Linked DNA regions of Homo sapiens. The gene in region 1 interacts genetically with each later gene. Each region holds a gene or a part of one and is shown in the gene's direction. Other genes may lie near its edges. The genes, in order: SLC5A5 and NTRK1.

What was found.
Region 2: changes in SLC5A5 (region 1) and NTRK1 together harm fitness less than expected from each alone (positive genetic interaction), as found in Homo sapiens cells (one large-scale study listed by BioGRID).

What each region holds. Positions count from the first base shown.
Region 1 is NC_000019.10:17,878,131-17,882,149, forward strand, and holds part of SLC5A5 (sodium/iodide cotransporter), read left to right. Parts: intron 1-2,701; coding exon of another isoform or gene 2,702-2,734; coding exon 2,735-2,823; intron 2,824-3,829; coding exon 3,830-3,942; intron 3,943-4,018; coding exon 4,019-4,019. UniProt on the Homo sapiens protein: Sodium:iodide symporter that mediates the transport of iodide into the thyroid gland. Can also mediate the transport of chlorate, thiocynate, nitrate and selenocynate.
Region 2 is NC_000001.11:156,870,865-156,874,364, forward strand, and holds part of NTRK1 (high affinity nerve growth factor receptor isoform 2 precursor), read left to right. Parts: intron 1-758; coding exon 759-891; intron 892-2,768; coding exon 2,769-3,095; intron 3,096-3,500. UniProt on the Homo sapiens protein: Receptor tyrosine kinase involved in the development and the maturation of the central and peripheral nervous systems through regulation of proliferation, differentiation and survival of sympathetic and nervous neurons.

The sequences.
Region 1 (4,019 bases):
CCTCACTAGCTTGGTGGGATTGAGGTCGAAGAGCATTCCTAGCAGAGGGAATGGCCTGTGCAAAGGCCAAGAAGTAGGAAAGAGCTGAGAGGAGGCCAGGTGCGGCGGCTCATGCCTGTATCCCAGCACTTTGGGAGGCTGAGGCGGGTGGATCACCTGAGGTCAGGAGTTTGAGACCAGTCTGGCTAACATGGTGAAACCCTGTCTCTACTAAAAATATAAAAATTAGCTGGACGTGGTGGCACGCACCTGTAGTCCCGGCTACTCAGGAGGCTGAGGCAGGAGAATCTCTTGAACCCGGGAGGCGGAGGTTGCGATGAAGGGAGATCGCACCACTACACTCCACCTTGGATGACAGAGTGAGACTCTGTCTCAAAAAAATAAAATAAAATAAAATAAAGAGTTCAGAGGAGGATCTGCAAGGAATGGGAAAGGTGAGTCTGGGAGGCAATGGACCGCCCTCAGTAGGTGTGAGCAGACAAGGGCCACATTCAGATCTAGAGTTCCAGAGAGTTCCAAAGATCCCCTGGGAGATGCTCAGGAGGAGATGAAACCATGACCCAGGCCGGGCATGTTGGCTCACGCCTGTAATCCCAGCACTTTTGGAGGCCGAGACAGGCAGATCACTTGAGGTTAGAAGTTCGAAACCAACCTGGCCAACATGGTGAAACCCCCCTCCACTAAAAATACAAAAATTACCTAGGCCTGGTGATGCATGCCTGTAATCCCAGCTACTCGGGAGGCTGAGGCAGGAGAATAGCTTGAACCCGGGAGGTGGAGGTTGCAGTGAGCAGAGATCGCGCCATTGCACTCCAGCCTGGGTGACAGAGAGAGACTCCATCTCAAAAAAAAAAAAAACAAAAAAAAAAAACCAAAACAAGGCTGGGCGCGGTGGCTTACGCCTATAATCTCAGCACTTTTGGAGGCTGAGGCAGGGGTATCACCTGAGGTCATGAGTTGAAGACCATCCTGACCAACATGGAAAAACCCCGTCCCTACTGAAAAATACAAAATTAGCCGGGTGTGGTGGTGCATGCCTGTAATCCCAGCTACTCGGGAGGCTGAGGCAGGAGAATAGCTTAAACCTGGGAGGCGGAGGTTGCGGTGAGCTGAGATGGCGCCATTGCACTCCAGCCTGGGCAACAAGAGAGAAACTCCGTCTCAAACAAAAATAAAAACAAAACAAAACAAACCCACAAAAACAAAAACAAAAACTGTAATCCAGCGGGAACTAATCATGTTGGTGATAATAATAATGACAGCTCTGGTCTCCCATGTCCCAAGCGTCCACTCTGTGCCTCATGCTGTTCCCTTCACCAGCAGTTAGTTCTCCATCTAATCTTTCTTCTGAGAAAGGCAGGGCAGTCACGGCTCCAACTTTACAGATGAGGAAATTGAGGCTCGGGGGGAAGTCACTGCCTGAGGTCAATGGGCAAGTCGGGGGGCGGTGCCAGGACCCATGCCTAGGTCACACCCCAAGTAGAGTTCTGACCATGGGGTTCAGAGTTAGCAGAGGGTACGGGGGACCACCCCATCTGCAGTCCTCCCTGGAGGTCAGATCCGGGACTGCTGGACTGTGTAACTTCAGGGAGGGACTGTACTCTCTGCCTCACAGTCTTCATCAATAAAATGAGGATGACACGGGTCCCTGCTTCACAGGGATCCCAGGGCTCAGAACACAGTGGGGCTCAGGGACAATTCTCAGGTTCATGCAGTTGATCAACAAATGCACATTATAGCCTGAGGAACATAGGGAGACCCCATCTTTACACAATTTTTTTTTTTTTGAGCCAGAGTCTCACTCTGTTGCCCAGGCTGGAGTGCAGTGGCGCAACCTCAGCTCACTGCAACCTCTGGCTCCCAGGATCAAGCCATTCTCTTGCCTCAGCCCCCGAGTAGCTGGGATGACAGGCATGCGCCACCATGCCCAGCTAATTTTTTTGTATTTTTTGTAGGGGTGGGGTTTTGCCATGTTGGCCAGGCTGGTCTCAAACTCCTGACCTCAGGTGATCCACCTGCCTCAGCCTCTGAATGTGCTGGGATTACAGGCATGAGCCACTGTGCCCGGCCTTTCTTTCTTTTCTTTCTTTTTTTTTTTTTTTGAGACAGAGTTTGGCTCTGTTGTGCAGGCTGGAGTGCAACGGCGCGATCTCCGCTCGCTGCAACCTCTACCTCTCAGATTCAGGCAATTCCTCTGCCTCAGCCTCCCAAGTAGCTGGGACTCCAGGTGCCAACCACCACACCCAGCTAATTTATGTATTTTGGGTAGAGATGAGGTTTCACCATGTTGGCCAGGCTGGTCTTGAACTTCTGAGCTCAAGTGATCCACCCGCCTCGGCCTCCCGAAGTGTTGGGATTACACGCGTGAGTCACCCTGCCCGGCCAGACCCCTATCTTTACACAAAAATTTAAAAAAATTAGCCAGGCATGGTGGCGCACACCTGTGGTCTCAGCTACTGGGGGACTGAAGCAGGAAGATCGCTTGAGCCCAGGAGTTCTAGGCTGCAGTGAGCCACATTCATGGGACTGCACTCCCGCCTGGGCAACAGAGCAAGATCTTTTCTCAAAACAAAACAAAACAAAACAAAACCACAGACAAAAACTAAATGCATATTAAATGCCGACTCTGAGCCCTGTCCGTCTTGGGTGCTGGGGACGTGCAGCATCAGGACAGATAGATGCCCCGGTCCTCGGGGTGCAGCTGTCTGGGAGGCTGACCCCCAGTTCTCCCCAGTACATGCCTCTGCTGGTGCTGGACATCTTCGAAGATCTGCCTGGAGTCCCCGGGCTTTTCCTGGCCTGTGCTTACAGTGGCACCCTCAGGTGAGCACCCCTGCTTGTTCATGGAGCATTATTTCAGCCCCTGGGAGCCTCCTTATCCTGGCCTGCCATCCCTCTGGGGCATGGAATGTTCTGGACCTGTCCATCAGTCCCAGTTCCTGCTTGATCCCTAGAAGACAGCTCAGGTAGGCGCTGGCAGAGAGCATGCCCTGGGCACAGGGACCCCAACTGCAAGGGTTTACCTTCTTATCACCTGTCAGGGCCACGCCTGACTCTCCTCTCTTCTTCTTCCTTCTTTCCTTCCTTCCTCCCCAGACAAATATTTGTTGAACATCTACTATGTGGCAGGTACTGTTTTTTTTTGTTTTTTTTCCGGATGGAGTCTTGCTCTGTCACCCAGGCTGGAGTGCAGTGGTGCCATCTCGGCTCACTGCAACCTCCACCTCCTGGGTTCAAGCAATTCTCCTGCCTCAGCCTCCCAAGTAGCTGGGATTACAGGTCCACGCCACCACAGCCGGCTAATTTTTGTATTTTTAGTAGAGACGGGGTTTCGCCATGTTGGCCAGGCTGGTCTTGAACTCCTGACCTCAGGTGATCTGCATGCTTTGGCCTCGCAAAGTGCTGAGATTGCAGGCATGAGCCAACGTGCTCAGCCCAGGTACTGTTGTTCTAAACCCTGGGGCACAGCCATGACCAAGCAGTCCCCTGCTTCTGCCTTCCAAGGCCACACACTCAGGTGGTTTCCACTCTTCCGGGACTTCTGGTCACATGCCCTCACTGTCCCTTTTGCAAATCTCCCACATGTGACTGCAGTCCCTCTGGAACCAGAACCCACCTGTCTGTCCCACCTGCCCTTGGTCACAGGTGTCCTTGCTCCTGTAGGGATGTCTCAGGTCTTCGGGGAGGGGAGGGGCAAATATCTCCTTCACCTTTGCAGGACTGGGTTACCCCCACCGTTGCCCTCAGGCTGGGTGAGGTCTGGCAGGCCAGATGGTGTGGACGGTCTCTCCATATGGCCTGAGGACCCCCCGCTGCCTTCCTCACACAGCACAGCATCCACCAGCATCAATGCTATGGCTGCAGTCACTGTAGAAGACCTCATCAAACCTCGGCTGCGGAGCCTGGCACCCAGGAAACTCGTGATTATCTCCAAGGGGCTCTGTGAGTTTCAGGGAGACCTGGGTGGGAGGCCAGGGCAGTCCCTCCCCGTTGACCGTGCCATCCTCATCCACTACAGC
Region 2 (3,500 bases), on another chromosome or scaffold:
TCCACGGTTTCCTAGGAAGAGAAACTTGATCTGATTCAATCCTGACGATGATTCAGAATCAAGTCACTTTGCCTGTCTAACCTCACCCATGGTCCTCATCTGCTGCAGGAGGCGATGCCGCTGCTGTTGTTTCTAACTGCTGCTGTGCTATTTGCACCATCTCTTTGTTTCTGATCTTCCTTGGGCTGAGACTCAGTTTGTTAGAACTGTGTGTAAAACAGGAATGAATAGGCAGTGAGGTCCTAGTGGGGTCTCCAACGAGCTGTGTACAAATTTGGTACTTGGGATGCGTGACATCTGTTTAGCTGCTCAGATGGCTGGTTTTAGTTTCAGTTTGGGATATTTTGTGCCTATTTTGAGGCTACTGGTTAGATTTTAGATTTTTCAGATAATTAAATACGTGATCCAGGCTGGGCGCAGTGGCTCACGCCTGTAATCCCAATACTTTGGGAGGCCGAGGTGAGAGGATTGCTTGAGGCCCTGTTCAAGACCAGCCTGGGCAGGACAGTAAGACCCCGTCGCTACAAAAATAAAACATAAAATAAAAAAAAAATGTGATCCAGGAGATAGTCAACGAACAAACCTAAAGGAGGAAGGCCATTATCTGCTACATTCTCTCCCACCCCTCTCTCCCTTCTCTTCCCTCCCAGCCCTCCTCTCCTTTCCATCTGGAGCCAGAGGGGCTCTCCAAAGACTTCAGCCCCAGCCCCAAGCTGGCTAAAGCTCCTTCTTATTCCCCCCTCTCTTTCCTGATCTAGAAATCTGGGGGTCTGCCATCCCTGGGGCTGACCCTGGCCAATGTCACCAGTGACCTCAACAGGAAGAACGTGACGTGCTGGGCAGAGAACGATGTGGGCCGGGCAGAGGTCTCTGTTCAGGTCAACGTCTCCTGTGAGTCTCAGTGGCAGCTCCGGCACCCACCCCCTACTCATCTCTTCTTCCCTCAAAAGAGGATGTAGGGTGGGGGGCTGGAAGAAAGGGTGGGATGTGTGTCTCCACAGCTGCTCCCTCCCAGCTGTTTCCAGATTCCCATGAAAACCTGATCCTTTGGGGGAAGTCCTGGGGTCTTGTCAAGGCCAGAGGGATGGAGATGGATTTCTTTCTGGCCCCCTGCCCGAGCCTTGCTACCTGAGGCCCTCAACGCCAGATGCCCGGCTGTTCCCACTGCTCCGAAGTATTTTTTCATGCCCGTCCCTCATCGGGTCCTTCTCCCCGCATCCTAGTTTCAAAAGAGGAAATTCTCCTCCTGAGTTCCTCTTTACGCTCGCTGCCTAATTTCTCTAGATCAGCCAACAAATTATCTTAAATATTCTACTTTACATCAGTTTTCTTCTTTTATTGTGAAATATACATAGAAATGTGCAAAAAATATATATATTTTAAACAATAATTACTCTTACCAGCATCACGGAAGATCCCCCACCACCCAACACCTCTCCCTGTTCGCAATCCCATCCCACTCTCCCATCTCATGTTGACTTTTGTCAGGATAACCATTTCCTTGCTTTTAAAAATAATTTTTCTCAAATATGCTTTCCTATCGGTATCATTTAGTTTTGCCTGTTCTTGTACATTATATAAATGGAATCATACTGCGTGTATTATTTTGTATCTGGTTTCTTTCATTCAACATTATATTTATAAGATTCATTCATGTTAATGGGAGTTGCTATATGTAGCTCATGCAATTCATTGCTAAATAGTATTCCTATGTATGAATGCTATATTATATATATATATACATATATTTATGCATACATACACTTTTTTTCTATCATTGAGGGGCTTTTACTTTTACCAGATTGGGTCTATTTCTTTTTTTTTTTTTTGAGATGGAGTCTCGCTCTGTCACCCAGGCTGGAGTGCAGTGGCGCGCTCTCGGCTCACTTCAAGCTCCGCCTCCCAGGTTCACGTCATTCTCCTGCTTCAGCCTCCTGAGTATCTGGGACTACAGGCGCCCTCCACCACGCCCAGCTAATTTTTTGTATTTTTTTAGTGGAGACGGGGTTTCACCGTGTTAGCCAGGATGGTCTCGATCTCCTGACCTCGTGATCCGCCCGCCTCGGCCTCCCAAAGTATTGGAATTACAGGCGTGAGCCACCGCGCCTGGCCCAGATTGGGTCTATTTCAAACGCATATCTTTTTTCAAAAAGAGTGTGTGTGTGTGTGTGTGTGTGTGTGTGTGTGTGTGTGTGTGTTTGAAGAGATGGGGTCTCAGCCTGTTGCCCAGGCTGGAATGCTTTGGGATCATAACTCACTGCAGCCTTGAACTCCTGGCCTCAAGCGATCCTCCCACCTCAGCCCCCTGAGTAGCTGGGATTACAGGAGCAAGTCACTGTGCCTGGCTTTTCCCCAAAAATTTAACTGTATATATTTTTGGCTGGTTTGATTGTTAGGGCCCCTGACCCATCTTCTTCAGCTTGGTTACACTGACTTCTTCTAGATTCCTTATCCCAAAGACTCCATGTTTAATTGTCATAAGCTGATACCCCACTCCTGTGGGGCTGTGACTTATTTATGGCCCACCACTTATGTTCTTTAAGCCTCTAAATTTTATATGCCTGCTGCCTGATTTATTTAAAATGTATTGTCAACTTTCTTCAAAACATCTCTCCTTGGTGAATTTCCCAGGGCCTGCTGACCTGTTTCTCCCAGGCCTGCCCTTTGATTTCGGGTTCTACTCGCTTTGCCCGTGGACTTGTCGGGTGTGTGCCAGGCTCCCTCCAGCTGCGCCCTGACCTCCTGCTGTTGCTCTTTCTGGCCCACAGTCCCGGCCAGTGTGCAGCTGCACACGGCGGTGGAGATGCACCACTGGTGCATCCCCTTCTCTGTGGATGGGCAGCCGGCACCGTCTCTGCGCTGGCTCTTCAATGGCTCCGTGCTCAATGAGACCAGCTTCATCTTCACTGAGTTCCTGGAGCCGGCAGCCAATGAGACCGTGCGGCACGGGTGTCTGCGCCTCAACCAGCCCACCCACGTCAACAACGGCAACTACACGCTGCTGGCTGCCAACCCCTTCGGCCAGGCCTCCGCCTCCATCATGGCTGCCTTCATGGACAACCCTTTCGAGTTCAACCCCGAGGACCCCATCCCTGGTGCGAGGGCCATCCTGAACCCTGCCCCCACTCCTGGGCTCCTCCTGGGTTACAGCCAACTTCCTGCTATAGCCCTGACCCCAGAAATTGGAGTGCCTGGTTCGGGACAGAAAGGAGTCTGGAGTCCTGGTGTCCCGCTGTTCTGGCCTCCTTACCCTCTCCCCAAGCCAGGACTCCTGAACTCCTGAGCTATTCCGTCCTTGTCGGCTGGCTGAGGAGACAGCCATGCAGCAGGGCATCCTGGCCCAGCTGGAAAAGGGTCACATGCATCTTCTTCCTTGAGGCCCAGCAGCCCACCTCCATCCCCCCTCGTCCCATGAAGGAATGAGTCCCAGAGTAGGCAGGGGACTCACTGCTTTCCTCCTCCCTCTGACTGCTTTCTCTCCTCCCTCTGACTGCTTTCTC